2 separate regions of the Homo sapiens genome follow, and region 2 is linked to region 1. The links come from fine-mapping of genetic effects on gene expression. Tissue or cell type: whole blood. Region 1 holds a variant in brackets; the other region holds the start of a gene. All regions are shown on one strand. Distances are between the middles of the regions.

Evidence for each region. PIP is the estimated chance that this variant, and not a neighbour inherited with it, causes the effect.
Region 2: it holds the start of HK1, and the variant in region 1 is fine-mapped to the expression of HK1 in whole blood (INTERVAL, PIP above 0.99).

Annotation. Positions count from the first base shown.
Region 1 is chr10:69,349,526-69,357,787 of GRCh38, reverse strand. All of the region lies in intron 2 of HK1 (hexokinase 1), which reads right to left. Among named protein-coding and RNA genes, the nearest start is that of HK1, 35 kb to the right of the region's middle. The variant C/T (reference allele first, on the strand shown) is at 3,353.
Region 2 is chr10:69,315,829-69,323,828 of GRCh38, reverse strand. HK1 (hexokinase 1) reads right to left here and starts at 4,982. Exons shown (of 18, transcript NM_000188.3): 1 at 4,819-4,982. The coding sequence starts at 4,881. RefSeq lists enhancers at 1,897-2,813, 4,399-4,448, 5,739-5,968 and a silencer at 4,749-5,428.

The sequences.
Region 1 (8,262 bases):
CTTCTGGACATTTCATATCAATGAAATCATACAGTGGCCAGGTGCGGTGGCTCATGCCTGTAATCCCAGCACTTTGGGAGGCTGAGGCAGGTGGATCGCTTGAGCTCAGGAGTTTGAGACCAACCTGGGCAACATGGCGAGCCCCTGTCTCTACCAAAAACACAAAAAAGATTAGATGGGCATGGTGGTGTGAGCCTGTAATCCCAGCTACTTGGAGACTGAGGTAGGAGAATCTCTTGAGCCCAAGAGACAGAGGTTGCAGTGAGCTGAGATCACGCCACTGCACTCCAGCCTGGGCAACAGAGCGAGGCCCTGTCTCAAAAAAAGAAGAAAAGAAATCATACGGTATATGACCTTGTATGACTGGCTCATTTCACTAAGCAAAATGTTTTTAAGGTTCATCATGTTATAGTGCATATGAGACTTTATCCCTTTTAATGGCTGTTACACTCTATAGATATAACACATTTTATTTATTCATTTGTTACTGACAGACATTTGGTTTGTTTCTACCTTTTGGCTATTATGAATAACACTACTATGAATATTTGTGCCCAAGTTTTTGTGTGGACACGTTTTCATTTATCTTGGGTATATATACCTAGGACAAGAATCGCTGTCAAATAGTAACCCATGTTTAACTTTTCAAGGAATTACCACCATTCTTCAAAGCAGCTGCACCATTTTACATTCCTACCAGTAATGCATGAAGTTTTCAGTTCTCCATGTCTTCATCAACACTTATTACAGTCTGACTTCTTTATCAATTTGCATTTCTCTGATGACTAATGGTGTTGAGTACATTTCTATGTGCTTATTGGCCACTTGGAGAAATGTCTATTCAGATCCTTTGCTCATTTTAAACACTTGGCTTATCTTTTCCTTTTTTTTTTTTTTTTTTTTTTGAGATGGAGTTTCGCTCTGTTGCCCAGCTTGGAGGGCAGTGGCTCAATCTCGACTCACTGCAACCTCTGCTTCCCGGGTTCAAGCAATTCTCCTGCCTCAGCCTCCTCAGTAGCTAGGATTATAGGCGTGCACCACCACGCCTGGCTAATTTTTGTATTTTTAGTAGAGACGGGGTTTCACTATGTTGGCCAGGCTGGTCTCGAACTCCTGACCTTGTGATCCGCCTGCGTCGGCCTCCCAAAGTGTTGGGATCACAGGCGTGAGCCACCGCACCCGGCCTCATTTGTCTTTTATGTGTTGAGTTGTAAAAGTTCTTTTTATGTTCTAGATACAAATCCTTTATCAGACATATGACTGGCAAATATTTTCTCCCATTCAGTGGATTGTCTTTTCTTTTTTTTATGGTATCCTTTGATGCAGTAACATTTTATGTTTGTTGTTGTTGTGTTTGAGACAGGGTCTTGCTCTGTTGCCCAGGCTGGAGTACAATGGTGCAATCATGGCTCACTGCACCCTTGACCTCCTGGACTCAAGAAATCCTCCAGCCTCAGCCTCCCAAGTAGCTGGAACTACAGGCATACGACCACACCTGGCTAATTTTTAATTTTTTTTAGAGACAAGGTCTCACTATGTTGCCCAGGCTGTCTCAAATGCCTTCGCTCAAGTGATCCTCTTGCTTGGCCTCCCAAAGTGCTGGGATTACAGGCATGAGCCACCAAGCATGGCCAAGTTTTAAATTTTGATGAAGTCCAGTTTTACGTTTTTTCTTTTATTGTTTGTGCTTTTGGAGTTGTAGCTAAGACTCTATTGCCAAATCCAAGGTCACAAAGATTCAAACCTGTATTTCGTTCTAAGAGTTTTATTAGTTTTAGCTCCCACATTTAGGTATTTGATCCATTTCAAGTTAATTTTATATATGGTATGAGGTGTAGGTCAAACTTCATTCTTTTGCATGTGGATATCCAGTGTCCCAGCACCATTTGCTGAAAAGACTATTCTTTCCCTCATTGAATAGTCCTAGCATTCTTGTCAAAAGTCAATTGACCGTAATGTATGCATTTATTTTTTTTTTCGAGACAAAGTCTCACTCTGTTACCCAGGCTGGAATGCTACCCAGGCTGGAATGCAGTGGCATGATCTCGGCTCACTGCAACCTCCACCTCCCGGGTTCAGGCAATTCTCATGCCTCAGCCTCCCAAGTAGCTAGGATTACAGGCGTGTGCCACCACAACTGGCTAATTTTTTTGTATTTTTAGTAGAGACGGGGTTTCACCATGTTGGCCACGCTGGTCTCAAACTCCTGACCTCAGGTGATCCACCAGCCTCGGCCTCCCAAAGTGCTAGGATTACAGGCATGAGCCACCACACTCAGCCTGTATGCATTTATTTCTGAACTCTCTATTCTGTTCCATTAGTCTGCATGTCTACCTTCATGCCAGTACCACATGTCTTGATTACTGTTGCTTTGCTGAAAATTTTGAAATTGGCAGTGAAATTCCTTCAGCTTTGTTCTTCTTTTTCATGATTGCTTTGGTTATTCTGGGTCCCTTGAGCTTTTGATTTTCAACACAAAATAAGGTTTGCTTTCTGTTTTTAACAATAAAGCTGACTTATCTTTGTATTTGATTCTACCAAGCTATAAGCCCTGACACACTGCTATATTTCTGGAACTTACAATGGTGTTTGGAATGTAGGTAAAAACTGAGCAAATACTTGTGGAATTAATGAAGGTATAAAGAAATAAACAACAAACCAAGGAATTCTCACATTGAATGTCACTGTTCCTATCTTTTTTTTTTTTTTTTTTTTTTTTGAGAGGGAGTCTTCCTCCATTGCCCAGGCTGGAGTGCAATGGCGTGATCTTGGCTCATTGCAACCTCTGCCTCCCAGGTTCAAGTGATTCTCCTGCCTCAGCCTCCCGAGTACCTAGGATTACAGGTGTCCACCACCATGCTTGGCTAATTTTTGTATTTTGTAGTAGAGATGGGTTTTCACCATGTTGGTCAGGCTGGTCTCAAACTCCTGACCACAGGTGATCCACCTGCCTTGGCCTCCCAAAGTGCTAGGATTACAGGCATGAGCCACTGCGCCCAGCCTGTTCCTATCTTCGTTCTCAAGTTCCTTGAGGGAAAGACCACAACTTGGGATTCTCTGTCCTTGGCACCCAGGACAGCTCAGCAAATGCTCATTAGCTGCCTGGTCACAGGGACTGGTGGTCCATTCATTCATTCAAGGCACCTGATATGGTTAGGCTTTGTGTCCCCACCCAAATCTCATCTTGAGTTGTAACCCCCACAATGCCCACATATCAAGAAAGAGACCAGGTGGAGGTAACTGAATCATGGAGGTGGTTCCCCCCATGCTGTTCTCGTGATAGTGAGTGGGTTCTCATGAGACCTTATGGTTTTATAAGGAGCTCTTCCCCCTTCGCTCAGCACTTCTCCTT[C/T]CTGCCGCTTTGTGAGGAAGATGCCTTTTCTCCTTCCACCATGATTGTAAGTTTCCTGAGGCCTCCCCAGCCATGCTGAACTGTGAGTCAACTAAACTTCTTTCCTTTATAAATTACCCAGTCTTAGGCAGTTCTTTTTAACAGTATGAAAACGGACTAATACAGCACCCCTGCTTGCTGTTTATTAAGCACAAAGCAGTTACGCCATCATGTGAGACACACACAGAGGAAAAACCAGAGTATGTTTTTCCTTTTCTCTACTCACCACAACACAGAACACACCTGTGACCCTGGATGCATGTGGGTTTTTCCCCACACACCAAGCAAGTAATTCTGCAGTGAATTCTCCAGTGAACACCAGCTCCATGCTCTCTAATTCAATTCAATTATTTCACTAGCTACCTGGAGATAGCATCATATCCCACAGGTCGAGGGCTCGTTCACACGAGGCTGCCCTCCCTCCAACTTCAGACACCAGTCACAAGCACAGGTTGTGGCCTGTGCTTCTGGCTGATCACTATAAATCGGGGTTCCTACAACCCCCTCCTTGGGTTGCATTAGTTTGCTACGGCAGCTCACAGACCCAGAAAAAACACTTCACTTACATTTACATATTTACTATAAAGGATATTACAATAAATACAGATGAAGAACTGGATGGAAGAGATACACAGGGAGGGGCATGGGAGAAAGGGCAGGAGTTTCCATGCCCCCTCCAGATGTGCCACCCAGGAACCTCCATGTGTTCAGCTAGACAGAAGCTACCAGAACTCAGTCATTCTAGGTTTTCTTCTTTTTGCTTTTTTTTTTTTTTTTTGGTTTTGTTTGTTTGTTCTTTGAGTCAGGGTCACACTCTGTCACCCAGGCTGGAGTGCAGTGCAGTTGCATGATCACAGCTTACTGCAGCCTCAACCTCCAGAGCCCAAGCGATCCTCCCACCTCAACCTCCCGAGTAGCTGGAACTACCGGCACGTGCCACCACATCTGGCTAACTTTTTTTTGTATTTTGTGTAGTGACAGGGTTTTACCATGTTGCCCAAGCTAGTCTCAAACTCTTAGGCTCAAGCGATCCACCCACCTGGGCCTCCCAAAATGCTGGGATTACAGGCGTGAGCCATCATACCTGGCCTGTTTTAGGTTTTTGTGGAAGCACCATTACACAGTTGCGATTGATTAAATCATCGACCATTGGTTTATTCGCTCTATTTTCAGGCTCTCTCCCTCCCTGGAGGCGGCATGGGGGTTGGGGCTGACAGCAACCCTCTGATCACATGGTTGGTTCCCCCTGGCAACCAGCCCCCCATCCTGAGGCTATCCAGGGTCCCACCAAGGAACAAAAGAGACTCTCCTATCACCCAAGAAATTCCAAGGGATTTAGGAGCTCTGAGTCAGGACCAGGATCAAAGATTCTCCTAGCACCTGTATTGCTCAAGAAATTACAAGGGTTTTAGAAGCTAAATGCTAGAGACTAGGGGCAGAGACCAACATGTATATTTCTTATTATTTCACATATTGGTTGGTTGTTTTTTTAATAACAGTTTTATTGAGATATAATAATATAGCATACAATTTTTACCCATTTTAAAGTGAAAAATTCAGTGGTTTTCAGCATATTTACAGAGTTGTGCAACCATCACCACTATCTAATTTTAGAAAATTTTCATCATCCCAAAAGAAATTCCATACCCATTAACAACCATTCACCATTTCCTCCCAACCTCCCTATCTCCCAGCAACCACTAATGTACTTTCTGCTCTACAGATGCCCCTATTCCAGACATTTCATATAAGTGGAATTGTATAATATTAGGTCCTTTGTGTCTGGCTTCTTTCACCCGGCATAAGGTTTTCAAGGCTCATCCATGCTGTAGCGTGGATCAGTACCTCATTCCTTTTTATGAACCGATTATATTCCATTATATGTATATATCACATGAAGCCACTGGTTTTAAATTATTTGTGGTCCAAAGGAAAGAGAGAGAACAAGGGAGAATGCTGGGAAGCAGGTGTCATAGATTTGGTGGAAATTCTGACCCCGACTTTGTGGCATTGTTCAAATCAATATAGAATTTTCTTTGGGCTCCCATTGGAGTCCTAACTCCAACAGTACTTTACACCACCACTAGGTTAAAAAATTGAATTCAGCCGGGCGCAGTGGCTCATGCTTGTAATCCCAGAACTTTGGGAGGCTGAGGCGGGTGGATCACTTGAGGTCAGGAGTTCGAGACCAGCCTGGCCAACATGGAGAAACCCTGTCTCTACTAAAAATACAAAAATTAGCTGGGTGTAGTGGTAGGTGCCTGTAATCCCAGCTACTCAGGAGGCTGAGGCAGGAGAATCGCTTGAACCCAGGAGGCGGAGGTTGTAGTGAGCCGAGATCATGCCACTGCACTCCAGCCTGGGCAACAGAGCAAGACTCTGTCTCAAAAAAAAAAAAAAATTGAAATAACTGAAAAAATTGAATTCAGTATGAAGTAGCTCCTCGCAGGTGAGTCACTAGAATATCAGAAACATTTTATTTGACCATCCATCAGCTAACATTCACTGAGTCTTTCTGTACCAATCACTAAGTGCTTATACGTATCCTTTTATTTTCAATCTTCACAACCCTATGAAGTCAGTACTGTCAGGATGCCCATTCTACAGATGAGCAAGTAAAGGTAAAGAGGGGTTAGATAACTTGCCCAAACGCACAACCAGTAAGTGGCAGAGTCAGCATTTGAATCCGAAGCCATAATGTATAACCATGAAAACTGCCTCCTGGACAGAACTCAGGGACAAGGATCCCCAAGGAAAGTGGGGGCCAGAGAGAGACTTCAGCACATCAGGAATGGCTACACTTCTTTTCTGGGGCTCTTCAACTTCCATGATTCCTTATAGCTTTGGGTTTTTTTGTTTTGTTTTTTTTGTTTTTGTTTTTGTTTTTGAGACGGAGTCTCACTCTTGTTGCCCAGGCTGGACGGCAATGGCGCGATCTCGGCTCACTGCAACCTCCGCCTCCGGGGTTCAAGCGATTCTCTTGCCTCAGCCTCCCCAGTAGCTGGGATTACAGCCACCCACCACCACGCCCAGCTCATTTTTTGTATTTTTAGTAGAGACGAGGTTTCACCACCTTGGCCAGGTTGGTCTCAAACTCCTGACCTCAGATGATCCGACTGCCCTGGCCTCCCAAAGTGCTGGGATTATAGGCGTGAGCCACCGTGCCTGGCCTAGCTTTGGTTTTATTTATTTATTTATTTATTTATTTATTTATTTAATTTTGAGACGGAGTCTCGCTCTGTCGCCCAGGCTGGAGTGCAGTGGCGTGATCTTGGCTCACTGCAAGCTCCACCTCCCAGGTTCACATCATTCTCCTGCCTCAGCCTCCCAAGTAGCTGGGACTACAGGAGCCCGCCACCACGCCCAGCTAATTTTTTTTTTTTTTTTTTTAGTAGAGACGGGGTTTCACTGTGTTAGCCAGGATGGTCTCGATCTCCTGACCTCGTGATCCGCCTGCCTTGGCCTCCCAAAGTGCTGGGATTACAGGCGTGAGCCACGGCGCCCGGCCAGCTTTGGTTTTATTTTGCTTCATTCTCTAATGAAGACAGTGAAAGCTCAGTCTGATAAACAACTATAAACCACTTGTGCATAGGGGGAAAAGGGGCACAAAAGCAAATACTACACTGAGATGAAATGATCGGTACTTTTTATTTTAATATTTTACTTAATTAATTTGCTGTTTTAATGTTCACCTAAACATTTATTTATTTCATGTTTTTGTTTGTTTGTTTTTTTGAGATGGAGTCTCACACTGTTGCCCGGGCTGGAGTGCAATGGCGCAATCTTGGTTCACTGCAACCTCCAACTCCCGGGTTCAAGCAATTCTCCTGCCTCAGCCTCCCGAGTAGCTGGGTCTACAGGCATGCACCACCACGCCCAACTAATTTTTGTATTTTTTAGTAGAGACGGAGTTTCACCATTTTGGCCAGGATGGTCTCGATCTCTTGACCTTGTGATCCGCCCACCTCGGCCTCCCAAAGTGCTGGTCCTATACGCTGCCGGGCAAAAGACACTGAGGAATGATGTCTGTTAAGGACAACAAGATAACTGATAAACTTTCCTGGATGTCCAGCATCTCTTTAGATAACTACCCTCCCATTTTTCACCTATGAGGTTGGAAGTGGGGCTGAATCCCCACTCCAGCTCCAGGGGTACCAATGCGTAATCCAGGCATGGGATCCAGGGGCATCCCAAGTCACCCATCTTGTCCATCGTGATTGGTTCAGGATGGGCACATAACCCAAGTAAGCCAATCACAGCCCTCTCCAAGACCATCACAGGTCCATGGGGAGCAAGGCCTGCTCTTTGCACAGAGATCGCTGGCTATAAGGGGAGGGGTCAGCCTAGGGCTGCAGGGGCCGTCCCTGCCACTGTAAGAGGAGAGATGGCCTATGAATGAAGCCAACACACAGGAAAGGAGCTGACTGAACTAGTAAGAGACAGATGAATCCCTAGATACAGAAGTCAACTCACAGCGAGACTTCCCAGTTATAGGAAACTAGAATTCTCTTTTTTTCTTAAACAAATTTGAGTCAGATTTCCTTCAGCTACAACCAGAAGGTTTCCAGGTTAGTTCAATATTCTTTGTCAGGAAATGAATCCCCCAAATACCCACTTGCCCTCCATAACAAAAGGGACCTATCAGTCCCTTTTACCTCGGGTTGGCTCCCTGATTCAGAGCTGTCGTGTCCAGTCACCCCCTTGCAGAGGTACTGGAGCTGTAGCCTGTGGTCTCACCCACATTTTATGTGGCTAGCTCAGGGGTTGGGGGTGAGACAGCCTGCCTTGGCTTGCCCCTTTTCTCTGCCTCCTTCCCCTGTAACATCACAGAGATGCCAGCGAATCCTGAAAAACTCTGCATCCTTCCTGCA
Region 2 (8,000 bases), 34 kb after region 1:
TGCCTATGTCTTCTCCGGAGAACAGTAGGAGCGTGGGAGCATGGCACAGCTTGGCCAGATGTGAAAGCACCTCACAGACACCCTGCCTGCCAGTTTATTCCTTCATGACATTCCCAAACTATCCAACCAGATAAAGTGATGGGGCTTCTCTTGGGAGAAACCCTAGGAGTATCTAAGGTAGGAAAGGCAGGGATTATAAAGTCAAGATTCACCAAGAAGCTCTCACTGAATATTTGTACAACATCAGAATTGAGAGGTTATGAGACACTTCTCATAATTTTCTTTCTTCTTTTTTTTTTTTTTTTTTTGAGACAGAGTCTCGCTCTATCATCCAGCCTGGAGTACGGTAACACAATCATAGCATCACAGCTCACTGTTTTGGGATCAATCTTTTGGGCTCAATGAGCCTCCTGAGTAGCTGTGACTACAGGTGTGTGCATGCCACCAAAGCAGGCTAAAAAAAATTTTTTTTTAAGATGAGGTTTAATTTTGTTGCCCAGGCTGACTTTTCATAATTTTTTCTTTTTTTTCTTTGCCACTGCAAGAACCCACAGATTTTTCATAATTTTCTTTTTTTTTTTTTTGAGACAGAGTTTCGCTCTGTTGCCCAGGCTGGAGTGCAGTGGCATGATCCTGGCTCATGCAACCTCCGCCTCCCCGGTTCAAGCAATTCTCCTGCCTCAGCCTCCCGAGTAGCTGGGACTTCAGGTGCATGCTACCACGTCCAGCTAATTTTTGTATTTTTAGTAGAGACGGGATTTCACCATATTGGTCAGGCTGGTCTTGAACTCCTGACTTCGTGATTCACCTGCCTCAGCCTCCCAAAGTGCTGGGATTACAGGCATGAGCCACTGTGCCCAGCCAGATTTTTCACAATTTTCTAACTATCACCTCTCTCACCCCTGAGCAATAATGAATGGGCATTTTTTTTTTTTTTTGAGACGGAGTTTCGCTCTCGTTGCCTAGGCTGGAGTGCAATGGCGTGATCTCGGCTCACCGCAACCTCTGCCTTCCAGGTTCAAGTGATTCTCCGGCCTCAGCCTCCCAAGTAGCTGGGATTACAGGCATGCGCCACCACACCCAGCTAATTTTGTATTTTTAGTAGAGACGGGGTTTCTCCATGTTGGTCAGGCTGGTCTCGAACTCCCGACCTCAGGTGATCCACCCGCCTCAGCCTCCCAAAGTGCTGAGATTACAGGTGTGAGCCACTACATCGGCCTTTTATTTATTTATTTATTTTTAATGCTTGCTTTTGCAGCTGGAACACATAGGCTCTAAGGAATGTACCTTGGGCAACCCTTTAATTGCTAAGCCTACTCTCCCCTGTCTTCCTGGGTCAAGTACTCAAGGACTCCTGAGTTCGGCCATTGGACAAATCACACTCTCTTCAACAGCACCCATTAACCAATTTATGCAGATGCCGTCTGGATAATGGGGTTCCAAACTGGGAAGTCAGACACCTGAACTGTTTCAACCCAGGATATATTTTTATGGAGTTGAATTATTGATGTGCCTCAAGGCAATGAGGAAAGAAATGACACCCTTTTCATGATCACCTACTAGTGGAAATCACTTAGCGTTATGGGGATCTCGCCCAGAGAAAATCCACTGGCATTTGCTCACCATTCTGACAAGCCTGGAGGAAAGGAAGTCTAATCTTTCTTTAGAAGCCAAGTTCTGACCTTCCTGGACCCATCTTCCCTTTCTAAACAAACAGAGCACTATGCAATCCTTCACCCTGCTCCAAGCTCCTAATGGCTAAACCGAGTGGAAGAAGCTGGCGAGATGAGATGCGTGTTTAAAGTTACTTAGAGGTCAAAGAACCCAGCCTCTAGCTGCAGAACTGGCAGATGTCTGGGATTCTGATGAATGGAATCCTTCACAAGCACACATATGCCTCCCTTTCCTCCTACAGGCACTAGAAGAGTGAAAGGAATATATGTGTTTTGTGCTTAGCTCAGCCTAATGCCAGTACACCCTCTTCAACAGCACCCATTAACCAATTTATGCAGATGCCGTCTGGATAATGGGGTTCCAAGCTGGGAAGTCAGACACCTGAACTGTTTCAACCCAGGATATATTTTTATGGAGTTGAATTATTGATGTGCCTCATAGGCAATGAAGAAAGAAATGACACCATTTTCATGATCACGTTTGGATTCTAAGCAATCCCAAAAACTTCCCCGGCATGGTCCCCAGCTTCCCTTCTCCTACCTCTGGCTCTGAGGGCAAGAAGATAGATGAGAGTTACTGAGGGATGCCAGGTCTGTCTCCAGAGCCCCGGAGGCTGCCTACAGCTGGAGGGCTGAATCATCATGGCTGCCCACGCTGGGGGGGAACCATCCTCAGCAGGTCCCTGCTGGGAGGCAGGCAGAGTCCAGCCCCACAGGAAGAACAGGGGGTCCCGCACCTTCACCTAGCCTTTCCTATGGTGAGTGGTACGTGGAAAGAGCTGGTCTCTAAGAAATCCTGGGCCCCAGAAGAGCAGATGTGGTCCCCAGCATCTGCACACTTGGGCAAAACTGAGTAGGTCACTGGAGCAAGTACCCACTATGTCACTGTCCTTAGAAGGCCCAGGCTGGAGTGCGGTGGCGCAATCATAGCCAGGACCACACCCACAGATGGCTGTGCCACACAGTCCACTATGCAAAATGAGTGGACCCCCTGGCAGGAATCCACGTACTCCCCTATAGAAAGCAGCATAGGAAGTCCGTGGTGAAATGCAAGCAAACATCTTGTTTTTAAGAATCTCCTTGACAAATAATATCTGGTGGAAACCTTGGCCTTAAGACCTTCCTCCAGCAAGGTTCTCGGGGAAGAGAAGGGAAGAACATCAGAATCCCAAACTCGGAGTGAGGAGGGATGGAAGGGTCAACTGAATCACACACTCAGGTACCTACGGGGGCCTAGGAGATAGACTGTGCATCCATAGATGTGAATTGAGCCACCCACAGGAGTGGAGAGCTCTGGGCCCACCCTAGACACTGTATGTCTGAGAAAACATGTCCCACTGAATGGAGTCCAAACCTCAGCCCAGCTCAGCTGCTGGAGGCCACCGGCAGCCAACAGCCAGCAGTCTGTTGTGGGTGGTGGTGGGTGTGGACACTGGAGGTTTACAAGGTCACCCAGGCACCCCCCAGCCCAGCAGCCCACTGTCTTGAGCTATAAAGGACACCACGTGCAGGAGGACAGTGAACTCTTGGCTTCAGGAGGCCTGTTCTGGGCACTTCTTGCCATGCCGGGAGAACTGTCTCCCTGGTCCAATGGGAAGAACATCAGTGATGCACAACACCACTAGAGAAAACTCATGAAATGCACACACCCGCACGCACAGCTCCCAGGTCAGTGGCCAGAGGGAAGCTCCAGGGTGCTCCATAGGAGCAAGTGTTTCGAGTGCCACGGTTTGACAACCCCAGAGTGCTTAAAGCCATAAAGAGCAATGGCAGATGGCATTCCCAAGCCTATCTCCTACCTACCTCACTCCCGGTCCCCACCCACCATGGGATCCAAGATCACGGCAGGGTCCCCAGCGGCTTTGTCTCTCAGTACCCACTCCCTCCTGGAAGCTGACCTCCAGGAGGACCCTGGTGAAGTTCCTGGGTGGAGGCACTGGGAGACCTGGATCCCCCTGACTGGCTCTGCCTCTAACTCACTGGGTGACCTTGATAAGGTCGCTGCCCTCAGTAGGCCTGTTTCCTATGGTGCCAGATGAGGGAGTCATCTTAGATGCACAGGAAGAGGATGGAACACCCTATGGCTTGCCGGGCAGAAAATCAAGGCCTGTCACTCCTGCCTTTCACCTGTAGAACTCCACCTGTCTGAACGCCAAAGTCAAGATGACTTTGCCAGTCCATCCCAGCTAACCCCAGCAATAACGTCACCACGTTCAGGGTGGGTGGGCCTGGAGCCTGTACCAGACCTGGCACTGATAAAACGGGCGTCTTTCCCTACAGCTTAGGCTGTTTCTTTAAAATATGGTAGCACAGCTGGCAGAAGAGACAAATACACCTTTAAGACCTGCCAGCGGACAGTATTTTACACTAAGATGTCAAAGGCAACAACACCTCAGGACAGGAGGATGCATGCGTCCAAGTGCTAGAACAAGCATGCCACAGGCGTCCACCCAACTCAAATGACCAGTCGCTTATTTGAGCTCCTGTGCTGGCTAGAAATTACAGCTTAAGAGGAATAAAAAATTCCATTCAGACGTGCCGCTCCAGACACGAGGCCTATGAGCAAAGTTTCCGGTGGCCTCGCCGCCCCTCCCCGTTCCGGGAAGCCGGGCGGGTCACCTCGTCCTCAGATTAACGAGCAGCTCAAACAACTGGGAGAGCCCGGCGACAGCTTCTCCGGGGCACCCGACACCCTCCGCCAGGAACCCCAAATATGGGAGGCCTGGCCTCCAGCCAGCACCCCCGCCTGCTGCTCGATCACCTCCCCAGCATCTCCATGATCACACCTCCTCCCACGGCGCTCGGACCCTCCCGAACAGGCCCTGCGGAAGGGCCCACCGGCCACCTCCCCGCACAGCCCGGGGGCCTATCTGACATCCAGGGCCCGTTTCAAGGACACTGCAGCAGGCAGCCCGGTCTCGGGGGTCTTCCGCCCGATTGCCCCCCTCCCAAAAACGCACACACACAGAGACACTGACAATGCCGGTAGAATCGAAGGCGAAGGCTTTCCTTGCGCCCTGCAGTCCAACTCGATGCTGGCCCGGAGAAGGCCGGGCGCCGGAGGATGGAGGCAGCGGAGGCGGCGAGCGGATGCCGGAACGCAAGGCTGCGGCCAGGACCAGCGGCGGCGCGGGCGGGGGCTCACCTTTTTGACCTGGTCATCCTTCAGCTCCGTGAAGTAATAGGCCAGGAGCTGCGCGGCGATCATGCTGGCGGTCGGGGTCGCGGGGCGGCAGGCGTGGGGACGGTCGGTCCTCCGCAGCCCTGGCGAGCCGTGGTCCTCCGGCGGCTGCTCGGCGGCTCCTCCTCCTCCTCCTCCCCCGGCTCCTCCCCCTCGGCCCGGGGCGCGGCGACAGCTCGCGCGCTCCCGGTCTCCGCGCTCCCGTCCCCTGGAGGGTGACAGCCGCCAGCCGACCCACCTCCTCCACGCCCATTGGTTGCGGCGCGCCTCTGCAACGCCCGGCGGTGGCGTCCCGGCCGGGGAGCGGGGACGCGGCGGCCGCTCCCTCCTGCGCCGGAAAGGGGGCGGGCGACGCAGCGAAATCCCCCCCGACCCCGCATCATCCTGCACGTCCCCCACGTAGGGAGCCGATGCGGGCCTTCACGCGTGGCGGCGCCGTGCCCGGGTGGGCCGTGCCAGGCGGGGAGGTGCGAGGCGCAGGCAGGAGGCACCGCCCGGCTCCGCCGGGACGAGAAGCCCCTAGGGCTAGTCTAGGGACTGGCAGCCCCGGGGGCACGAAGGCGGTCCCATTCCTCGGAAATGAGGGCTCGCCCCTAGGAGTCCGGTGGACGCCGAGGTGCCGGAGGGGACTTGCAGAAGTGGGCGTGGAAAGCGGGCGGAAGCGGGAGCCGGGGACGCTACGCAGTCCTCGCACCCGGGTCCCGCGCCTTCCTCACCCAGGCCGAACGCACCGGCCTACCTGGGTCTTCAGCGGCAGTGCATCACCTCTCCCCGGCGTGCCCCGCCTAATCTCCAGCTGGCAGATTTGTATTGCTGAACCCAAAGCGACACCCCAGAGCACCCGCCCCCGAGTCACCAGCTCCGGTGGCTCTCCCTCAGGGCGCACTCCCTCTGGGCGGGACTTGGGCCACAGGTCGTGGCCTGTCCCCATCCTCTGGGCCTCCTCTTGCTCTTGGGCATCCAGGCCCACTGGGACTTGGGGCACGGTTCAGCGCCCCTTCCCAGGTGCCGTGTTTTCTACTTTCCCAGAGGAAGTTACGTAGGATGGGAGGACTCCCTAGAGGTGCTACCAGGACAGCCACTTTAGGATTCTTAGATTAATTATTTCTGTGTTCCGGAAGCCTCCAGGAGCTTTAGTGCCTTACAAAATGACATGTAATGAGCTCAAATATACAAACAAGTTGTTGCTATTCTGGTTAGACAGGTAAGGAAATTGAAGCTCAGTGAGGCCTCAGTCTTGCTGGACTTTATACAGCCAGGAAGTTGTAGATCTAGGATCACAGCTTGGATCTGTGAGTCTTTGAAGCAGGTGCTCACCTCTAGGGTTTGCTGTGGTCCCAGTTGTATAGAGCCCCTCTGCCTAAATAGGTCACTTTCCTGCAACCAAGTCTGCACCATATGGTGCCCTGAGATCCAACCCCCAACCTCTACCCTAGCTCTTGACTTTAGGAGTCCCTAGCCCTTGACCAGGCCTAGCAAAGGTACAGTCAAATCAGAGGGAGGGATGACGTAGGTTCAGGGGCCTGACAGCCACCATCACCCACAGAAAAGGAGGAGCTTAGATGCAGTCCTGAGGCCCCAGCTTCCTGTCCAGGTCACAGTCCCCACCCCCTGCCTTAGGGCCTATGCAGAGGGGCATCTTGAATCACCTCTGAGACTGTGTCTTCATCCATAAGATGAAGACACTAATGCCCACCTCACCTCCCCTTGATTGTTGTGTAATACTGTACGCAAAATACGTGCACATAATACACACTTAAGGAATGGCAGGTATCATAGAACTGACTGAAAAGTTAATGCGGTTAAAGCTTCAGGGACTCTCACTTTCATTCCTACCCTTCTAGGCCCTGGGAGGGCCTAGCAGTGTGATATTTGTATATTTATATTTGAATTATTTTCCATAGAGAGTGCCAATTTATTTAATTTTCAAGCCCAACAAAACCTGGATTTGCCCTGGATCATAATTATAAACCAGGAAGAGAGAGATTTTCTGGTACACATCAAACATTTGGAACTACCTACATGGCCGTTAAGCAAAATGGAGTGAATGAGAACAAGATGGTTGTTCTCAACTGCCATTTCATTTGAGTTCTGCAGATCTGCCAAGCTCACAGGGCTGGAAACTCCTTGAGGATGGAGGACTATGTTTTGCTAATTGCTCTGTCTCCTACACAAGCGCAGGGCCTGGCACTTGGCAGGCTGAATAAGCCTAATGCATAATCAAAAACATGGCCCTTAACCCAGCCACCAGCCGGTGCCATCACCCATGCCCAACCCGTTGTTACAACTCCTATCTGAGCTGGAGCCAGGGAGAAGCTGACGCTTGGAAGAGCCAGGTTACCCTGAAATGTCCTGTTTGCAGGCAGGAAAGCTGCCTCTGCTTTGTCTTCCCTGGCCTTTGAGAGGGAAACTGCTTCTCAAGGTGACTCATTCCTCCCCACTCCATGAATGCAACCAGGCCCCAAGGCCTGTCAATATTTCCTGAGAAATGTCTCTAGGCCTGACCTATTGCCACCTCCCAACTCCCAGTCCATCTCCCTGTGCCAGAAATATTACAAGAGTCTTCTAACTGTCCTCCTCGGCTCCTGGCCTCATGCCATCCAAGTCATTCTGAGCACCAGGTCACATTAATCCTGCTAAAATGCAGCATAATCATGTCATGACCCTTCCCTAAATCCCTTCATGGCCCTCTCCTTCCTGAGAGAGCCAATTTAAACATCTCTGCCTGGTTTCCGAGGCCTTCTGTAATCGACTCCACTCTTTCCCACTTATCTCTTCCTCCACTCTGGCCGCAACAAGGCCACTTCCCACCATCCTCTGCCCCCACCATGTCCACTCCATTTGTTCGCCGCTCATATTCCCTTCCTTGCCCTGCCTTCTCCACTCACCTCTGCCTGACCAAGCATCCCCTCTCATCTAAGGCCCAGCTTGCCAACCTTCCCTGGACCACAGCTACTCACCCCAATCTCCCAGGCCTCAGCACCTCGACAGGGCAAACTCAGGCTGTGCTCACAGTCCATCTGGATATACACCCAGACTCCTCTTTACAGGGCAGGAACCTGGGATGCCACAGGTGGGCCATCTTGCCCAGTGTCAGGTTGTGGTAGAGTTTTGAGCCAGGACTCCAGCCTAGTCCTGATGCCCAG